Homo sapiens: one gene and its partner. The protein of the gene in region 1 purifies or fractionates together with the protein of each later gene. This does not show direct contact. Each region holds a gene or a part of one and is shown in the gene's direction. Other genes may lie near its edges.

Evidence for each region.
Region 2: the proteins of CCDC124 (region 1) and ADARB1 purify together in Homo sapiens (affinity purification with western blotting; one study listed by BioGRID). This does not show direct contact.

What each region holds. Positions count from the first base shown.
Region 1 is NC_000019.10:17,935,970-17,939,788, forward strand, and holds part of CCDC124 (coiled-coil domain-containing protein 124), read left to right. Parts: intron 1-440; 5' UTR 441-451; coding exon 452-610; intron 611-3,819. UniProt on the Homo sapiens protein: Ribosome-binding protein involved in ribosome hibernation: associates with translationally inactive ribosomes and stabilizes the nonrotated conformation of the 80S ribosome, thereby promoting ribosome preservation and storage.
Region 2 is NC_000021.9:45,182,491-45,186,309, forward strand, and holds part of ADARB1 (double-stranded RNA-specific editase 1), read left to right. Parts: intron 1-94; coding exon 95-263; intron 264-871; coding exon 872-1,020; intron 1,021-1,983; coding exon of another isoform or gene 1,984-2,103; intron 2,104-2,432; coding exon 2,433-2,601; intron 2,602-3,819. UniProt on the Homo sapiens protein: Catalyzes the hydrolytic deamination of adenosine to inosine in double-stranded RNA (dsRNA) referred to as A-to-I RNA editing.

The sequences.
Region 1 (3,819 bases):
TCTTGGCTCACTTCAACCTCCACCTCCCGGGTTCGAGCGATTCTCCTGCCTCAGCCTCCTGACTGGCTGGGAATACGGGTGCACACCACCATGCCCAGCTAATTTTTGTATTTTTAGTGGAGATGGGGTTTTGCCGTGTTGGCCAGGCTAGTCTCGAACTTCTGACCGCAAGTGATCCGCCCGCCTCGGCCTCCCAAAGTGCTGGGATTACGGGTGTGAGCCACCAGACCTGGCCTAAATGAGCTCATTTGGTGTCATGATGTGAATTTTGCCTTAATAAACTTTTACAAGGAGAGCGCTAAGTCCAAAGCCCTTGTTTTATACAGAGAAGGCCACAGAGGCCCCAAGAGGGTCATGGCTGCCCAAGTGTGATTCTGGGGGTGCTGAGTGCCGATGTCCCCTCCGGCCCCTGCTCCCCCATCCCCATCCTCTTCCCGCAGCCTGCTGAGGGATGCCCAAGAAGTTCCAGGGTGAGAACACCAAGTCGGCAGCGGCCCGGGCACGTAGGGCAGAGGCCAAGGCGGCCGCTGATGCCAAGAAGCAGAAGGAGCTGGAGGATGCCTACTGGAAGGACGACGACAAACACGTCATGAGGAAGGAGCAGCGCAAGGTGCGTGCACTCCGAGTCCCCGCGGCCCGCATGCCTTGTGGCCAAGGCCAGTGGTCATTATGTCAATGTGGGTGAATAGCGAGAGGGCCCTCTGAGCTTTGGTCTGAAAGGCCAGGAGGGACCAGGCGCTGTCGCTCACGCCTGTCATCCCAGTACTTTGGGAGGCCGAGGCAGGCAGATCACCTGGGGTCAGGAGTTCAAGATCAGCCTGGCCAACATGATGAAACCCTGTCTCTACTAAAAATACAAAAATTAACTGCGTGGTGGCGCACACTTACAGTCCCAGCTACTCTGGAGGCTGAAGCAGAATTGCTTCAACTGGGAGGCGCAGGTTGCAGTGAGCCGAGGTCTCCCCGCTGCACTCCAGCATGGGCAACAGAGCGAGATTCCATCTCAAAAAAAAAAAAAAAAAAAAAAGAGGCTGGGCAGAGTGCCTCATACCTGTAATCCCAGCACTTTGGGAGGCCGAGGTAGGCATATCACCTGAGGTCAGGAGCTCAAGACCAGCCTGGCCAAAATGGTGAAACCCTGACTCTACTCAAAATACAAAAATTAGCCAGGCATGGTGGCAGGCTCCTGTAATCCCAGCTACTCGGGAGGCTGAGGCAGGAGAATTGCTTGAACCCAGGAGGCGGAGGTTGCAATGAGCTGAGATTGTGCCGTTGCACTCCAACCTGGGCAACAGAGTGAGACACTGTCTCGGAAAACAAAAAGCAAAATGCCAGGAGGCACTGGAGATGGCAGAGGGGAGGGAGGCAGAGGAAATGGTGTGTGGAAAGGCCCTGGGGTGGCACAGTCTTGCTTGTCTGTGGACAGTGAGGCTGTCATTGCTCTCTGTGGATGTTTCTCTCCTTTGAGTAATGTCAGGGTTGGGCTAGATGGTCATTCTCACCGTGGAGCTACTCTGCCCCTGAGGACGCTTGGCAACACCTGGAGATGTGTTTGGTTGTCATAACTCGGGGAGAGGGGGTGTTGCTGGCATATAGAAGGTGGAGACCAGAGATGCTGACACTCTAGAATGCACAGGACGCCCCCACAGCAAAGAATGAGCCAGCCCCAGATGTCAGCAGTGCTGAGGCTGAGAAACGCTGTGATCAGGCCCCCATTTCCAACCTGTTGACCCAGGTCCACAGGTTCTTCTAGGTGTTTATTTTATTTTTGTTGTTGTTGTTGAGACAGAGTCTCCCTCTGTTGCCCAGGCTGGAGTGCAATGGCGCGATCTCAGTTCACCGCAACCTTTGCCTCCTGGGTTCAAGTGATTCTCCTGCCTCAGCCTCCTGAGTAGCTGGAATTACGGGCATGTGCCACCATGCCCAGCTAATTTTGCATTTTTAGTAGAGATGGGGTTTCTCCAGGTTGGTCAGGCTGGTCTCGAACTCCCAACCTCAGGTGATCCGCCTGCCTTGGCCTCCCAAAATGCTGAGATCACAGTCCTGAGCCAATGTGCCCGGCCCAGGTGTTTATTTTTTAAAAGCCGTCGTTTGGCGTGGTAGCTCATGCCTGTAATCTCAGTACTTTGGGAGGCTGAGGTGAGAGGATTGCTTGAGGCCAGGAGCTCCAGGCCAGCCTGGGCAACATAGCAAGACCCCATCTCCACAAAACATGTACAAATTAGCCATGCATGGTAGTGTGTGCCTGTGGTCCCAGCTACTTGGGAGGCTGAGGTGAGAGGATCACTTGAGCCTGGGAGTTCAGGGCTGCAGTAAGCTATAATCGTGCTACTGTACTCCAGCCTGGGCAACAGAATGAGACTGTGACTCAAGATGAATCAAAAAGCCCAGGGCCAAGCACCATGCTTCATTGGTGTCTGGGTTGTGGTTTAGGGCTGATGCTGACCTGCTTGGCCCAGTAGGTGGCGCCAGTGACCCATGCTAGCCACAGCTCCTGGTTTCCACACCCTGGGTAGCTGAGACACTGGCCCTCTAGGCAACCCCCCAGCTTAGGGGCTGCTATCCTGACAACATGCCCAGTTCTTGGGGGGAATCTGGACATTCCCACCTGTTTTACCCGTCATCTTTTTTTTGTTTTTTTAAAGACGGTCTTGCTCTGTCACCCAGACTGGAGTACAGTGGCAGGATCACAGCTCAATGCAGTCTTGACTTCCCGAACTCAAGCAAGCCTCCTGCCTCAGCCTCCCAAGTAGCTGGGACTATAGGCGTGCACCACCACGCCCAGCTATTGTTTGTATTTTGTGTAGGGGGTGGGGGTCATCTCACTGTGTTGCCCAAGTTGGTCTCAAACTCCTGGGCTCAAACAGTCCTCCCACCTCAGCCTCCCAAAGTGCTGGGATTACAGGCATGAGCCACTGCACCTGGCCTCCCATTGTCTTTCTGTGAAGGGGTAGATCCTGCCTTGTTTTTAGCACACATTCAATGTCCCTGGCTTTCTTCCAGCCCCACCCCTACCCACCCTGCTGCACTGGGTCCATGGAGATATTTATAGTTTGGGGGTTGGGGGATCATCAAAATTTTGACACTATAGGAAAGTTGAAAACTCAAAAGGAAAAACAATGTCTGTCAAAGATGCAGTATCCATCCGGGTGCGGTGGCTCACGCCTGTCATCCCAGGACTTTGGGAGGCCGAGGCAGGCGGATCACCTGAGGTCAGGAGTTCGAGACCATCCTGGCCAACATGGTGAAACCCCATCTCTGCTAAAAATAAAAAAATTAGCTGGGCGTGGTGGCGCGCACCTGTAGTCCCAGCAACTCAGGAGGCTGAGGCACAAGAATCACTTGTACCTGGGAGGTGGAGGTTGCAGTGAGCCGGGATCGCGCCACTGCACTCCAGTCTGGGTGACAAAGCAAGAGTCCATCTCAAAAAAATAATAAAATAAAACAAAAAGATCCAGTATCCAGACAGAATCCAGAGACCTTTCCGCCCATAGTGTCAAGATCATTGGCTTAATCCTCCCTGTGGCCTGCGTCTTGGCCACTGGGGTTGGCCCCATCCTCTGGATGAGGAAATTGAGGCAGAGAAGGCAGAAAGCCCAGATCACGTGGCTATGAGGAAGAGCTGGAGCCAGACTGGCACCTTCTCCTTTGTTAAGAGGCTTTTTTTTTTTGAGGCAGAGTTTCACTCTGTCGCACAGGCTGGAGTGCAGTGGCGCGACCTCGGCTCACTGCAACCTCTGCCTCCCAAGTTCAAACAACTCTCCTGCCTCAGCCTCCCGAGTAGCTGGGATTACAGGTGTGCGCCACCATGCCAGGCTA
Region 2 (3,819 bases), on another chromosome or scaffold:
AAGTCACTGAGAATAAGAGTCAGACTTCAGGAGCACAGTTAGGCAAACATTACTGTGAATTACAGAAAATAGTGTCTCTTTTTTTTTTTTTCAGGCACAGATGTTAAAGATGCCAAGGTGATAAGTGTTTCTACAGGAACAAAATGTATTAATGGTGAATACATGAGTGATCGTGGCCTTGCATTAAATGACTGCCATGCAGAAATAATATCTCGGAGATCCTTGCTCAGATTTCTTTATACACAACTTGAGCTTTACTTAAAGTAAGTTTAGTAAACAAATAAGGACAGGAAGCTCTTTTTAAAAAATATTCCTCTATTAGAAAACATTGCAAAACCTTTCATTGTTTCTGTAATCATGGAAAATCTCTCAAAATCATAACTTTAATTAGTAACAATAAGGCTGCATCCCATTCTTCCACAATGCTCAACACACATATGCACACATACATACAATAACATAACATGGTCATAAATTTCAAGTCTGTGTTTAAGACCATGTGATTTTGTTGTATGCTGTATAAATAGAAGTTCCCAAACTGCCAGGTAAAGATGGTAATTTTTATTCTAGTCACCGTTTCTAGAAAGAGCTAGTCATGTATCCAAACTCCTTTTCTTTACAAAGCCATTTTTTGTATGTGGTCTTTCTGTTCTGAAGTCATAAATTGGAAGAAGGAAAGGTTACTCACATCCTGATGACATATCCATTATTGAGTGACAAGAACTGTATTAATTACCCTAAACATGTAAAATAAATATTCCAGTTCAAACTTATCTTTCCCTTGTGGAAAATACTAGCCTCTGAAAATGATAGACTAAAATTTAACTATATACAGCTTTAAATGTTACTTTTGCAACTTTTTTCCTTTCAGTAACAAAGATGATCAAAAAAGATCCATCTTTCAGAAATCAGAGCGAGGGGGGTTTAGGCTGAAGGAGAATGTCCAGTTTCATCTGTACATCAGCACCTCTCCCTGTGGAGATGCCAGAATCTTCTCACCACATGAGCCAATCCTGGAAGGTATGAGACGAGATTCTTCAACAAGCCAGTTTCTCAAGAAAATGTTAACAGATAAAAACTAACCTGTGTTAATATCCCTTTTCCTTTTTTTCTTTTTATTTTTAGACTTGGATGTGGATCTGATAAGAGTCTCTATAAAAGCATGGATTTTTTTCTTTCCAATTAACTTAATTAGAAAACTTTAATGAATGAAAAATGCTGATTGTAATTAACCAAGTAATTAGAATGGAGTGAGAATATTGGATTAAAATTGTATCAGTATTTAAATTTGGGTAATAAATATCTCTAAATCAGAGGTGTATGTGATCCTCCATATTTCTGAGGAATTCTAATTTGCTAAATGTGTAATTAAAGTATTTATTTGCCTGATATTTCAGAAGCAGATAAACACTAGTGAAAAGTGAAACCACTATTGTGATCATATTTTTTTCCATCCTTCTTTACATTTGAGGTTAGCACTTTTGTTTTTTAGTGTTTTGTATCTACATCCCTTCTCCCAAGCCCTTAGGCATTGTTTATTCCAAATAGAACGTTTTATTACATTACTTTCCTTGTTTATAAAAGCAACAGGCATACTCACTGTGGAAAATTGCTAACTATTTTTAAAATATAAGAACATTAAAATCATCCGTATTCCTGTAACCCAGAAATACTCACTATGGATGTTTTACCATACTTTCCATGGGTTTATTTCTGCATCTGTCTAGATTTATTTTGGAAATTTTAAAAATATAGAGGAAAATAACATGGCAAACACCCAAGTATCCATCACCCAGAATTAGCAAATGTTAGCATTTTGTCCTATTTGCTTCAGTGCATTTTTAATGATAGAAATAAATCATTTCAGTTAAAGTGAAAACCCCATTTCCCCAACTCCCTTGGAGACCACTTTTGTGAATTTTGTTTGTGTTATGTCCTTCCTACTCAATTTCATATAATTTTTTTTTTTTTTTTTTGAGACAGGGTCTCGCTCTTACACCCAGGCTGGAGTGCAGTGGTGCAATCATGGCTCACTGCAGCCTCGACCTCCTGGGCTCTTAAGCGATCCTTCCACCTCAACCTTCCAAGGAGCTGGGACTACAGGCATGTACCACTATACCTGGCTAATTTTTATATTTTTTATAGAGATGGGGTTTCACCATGTTGCCCAGGCTGGTCTTAAACTCCTGGGCTCAAGCGATCCACCTGCCTCAGCCTCCCAAAGTGCTGAGATTACAGGTGTGAGCCACCATACCCAGCCTCTCAGCTTCACATACTTATTTTGTATGTGTATTTTGTATGTATGGCATAAACATATGCATTTATATGCACAGACTGTATTTTAAATTTATAAGCTATTGTTAGATGTGCTTTTCAATAAATCAAATAGATGGTTTACTACCTGTGGGGTTTTAACTCTTTTTCTCTCTTAGAACCAGCAGATAGACACCCAAATCGTAAAGCAAGAGGACAGCTACGGACCAAAATAGAGTCTGGTGAGGGGACGATTCCAGTGCGCTCCAATGCGAGCATCCAAACGTGGGACGGGGTGCTGCAAGGGGAGCGGCTGCTCACCATGTCCTGCAGTGACAAGATTGCACGGTAAGGGGCGGGGGCTCCCTGTGGCCACCTCCCTGCACACAGGATTCATCCATACTGTTTGCCAACCTCCCTTTTCCACAACCATTTGAATTTTGGCCCCATTTCCCACTCAGGTGTTCCACAGTATTCTTTGAAGGACTGAGGTTCTAAACAGGTGCTGCTGGGACCCCCGTGAGGGGCAGCAGCAGGACCTAGACACAGGAGGCTCCACGCTTCTAACATTCCTATCCAAGCGTCTCAGAGTTTACCACTTATTTTTAACGTGGGCTTCTGGGTTAAACTGATGTTTTTAATGGGCTACAGGCCATGACATCTTAAAACTACTGGCTTCTCCTCATTAGTAGTAGATGCAACTTCAGTGGTCACTTTCATCATTCAGTTAACATTTTAGGTAGTTGATATGTGCATTTTAAAAGTAATGCAAACCCTGTCACAGGCATTGTGTTCTAAGCACAGAGAGCATCCCCAGCCATTCTGTGCCTGGGTGTGGGTTAGGCTTAGAGGAGGGCTCTGCAAGCACACTTCTGTAGTCAGCAGGCACCTGGGAGATATTCATCTTTCAGAGGCCTGTATCCAGAGCAGATTATAGAAAACCCATTTCTTCAGATGGTATCAGTTCCAGTAGTTCTTTGTTTTCATTTTTAAACTAATGTTTATTTGGAAAAAAAAAGTAACATAAGCAGATGGCAAAAAGCATACAATGATAAAGTTTAAAACCTCCCTCTTCAGAGCCCTCCTGTGGCACCCACAGTGAGTGGGTTTTGACTGTCCATCCAGAAGCTGTCAAAATTGATGCATACGCATGTGCACGTGCACATCTTTTCATTGTTTGTGTGCCCTTTATGTTGATTTCCTTCAGTGGGTCTTGTCAGGCAACCTCAAGTACAGGGAGCTGGATTAATCACACATTTTGGGCCATTGCCCACAGCCCAGGTGACCACTGTGATGTGTTTATTTATTATTTGTCCTTCCAGTCCACCTCCACACGTGCATATGTCAACTTTGTGTGTGTGTGATGTGGGGGAGGGGGGTGTACTCTTGAAAAATACACAATAGAATTATTTGGAGTATTTGTTGCTAATTTACAGAAATGATACTATGCTGTAAATCCTATCTGATTCTTACATTTTCATTCAACCTATATTTTTGGAGCTATTTCTGTTGCTCTAACCAACAGCCAGTTCACTACTGACTTTTGCAAATCTTCCTTCATAGTCA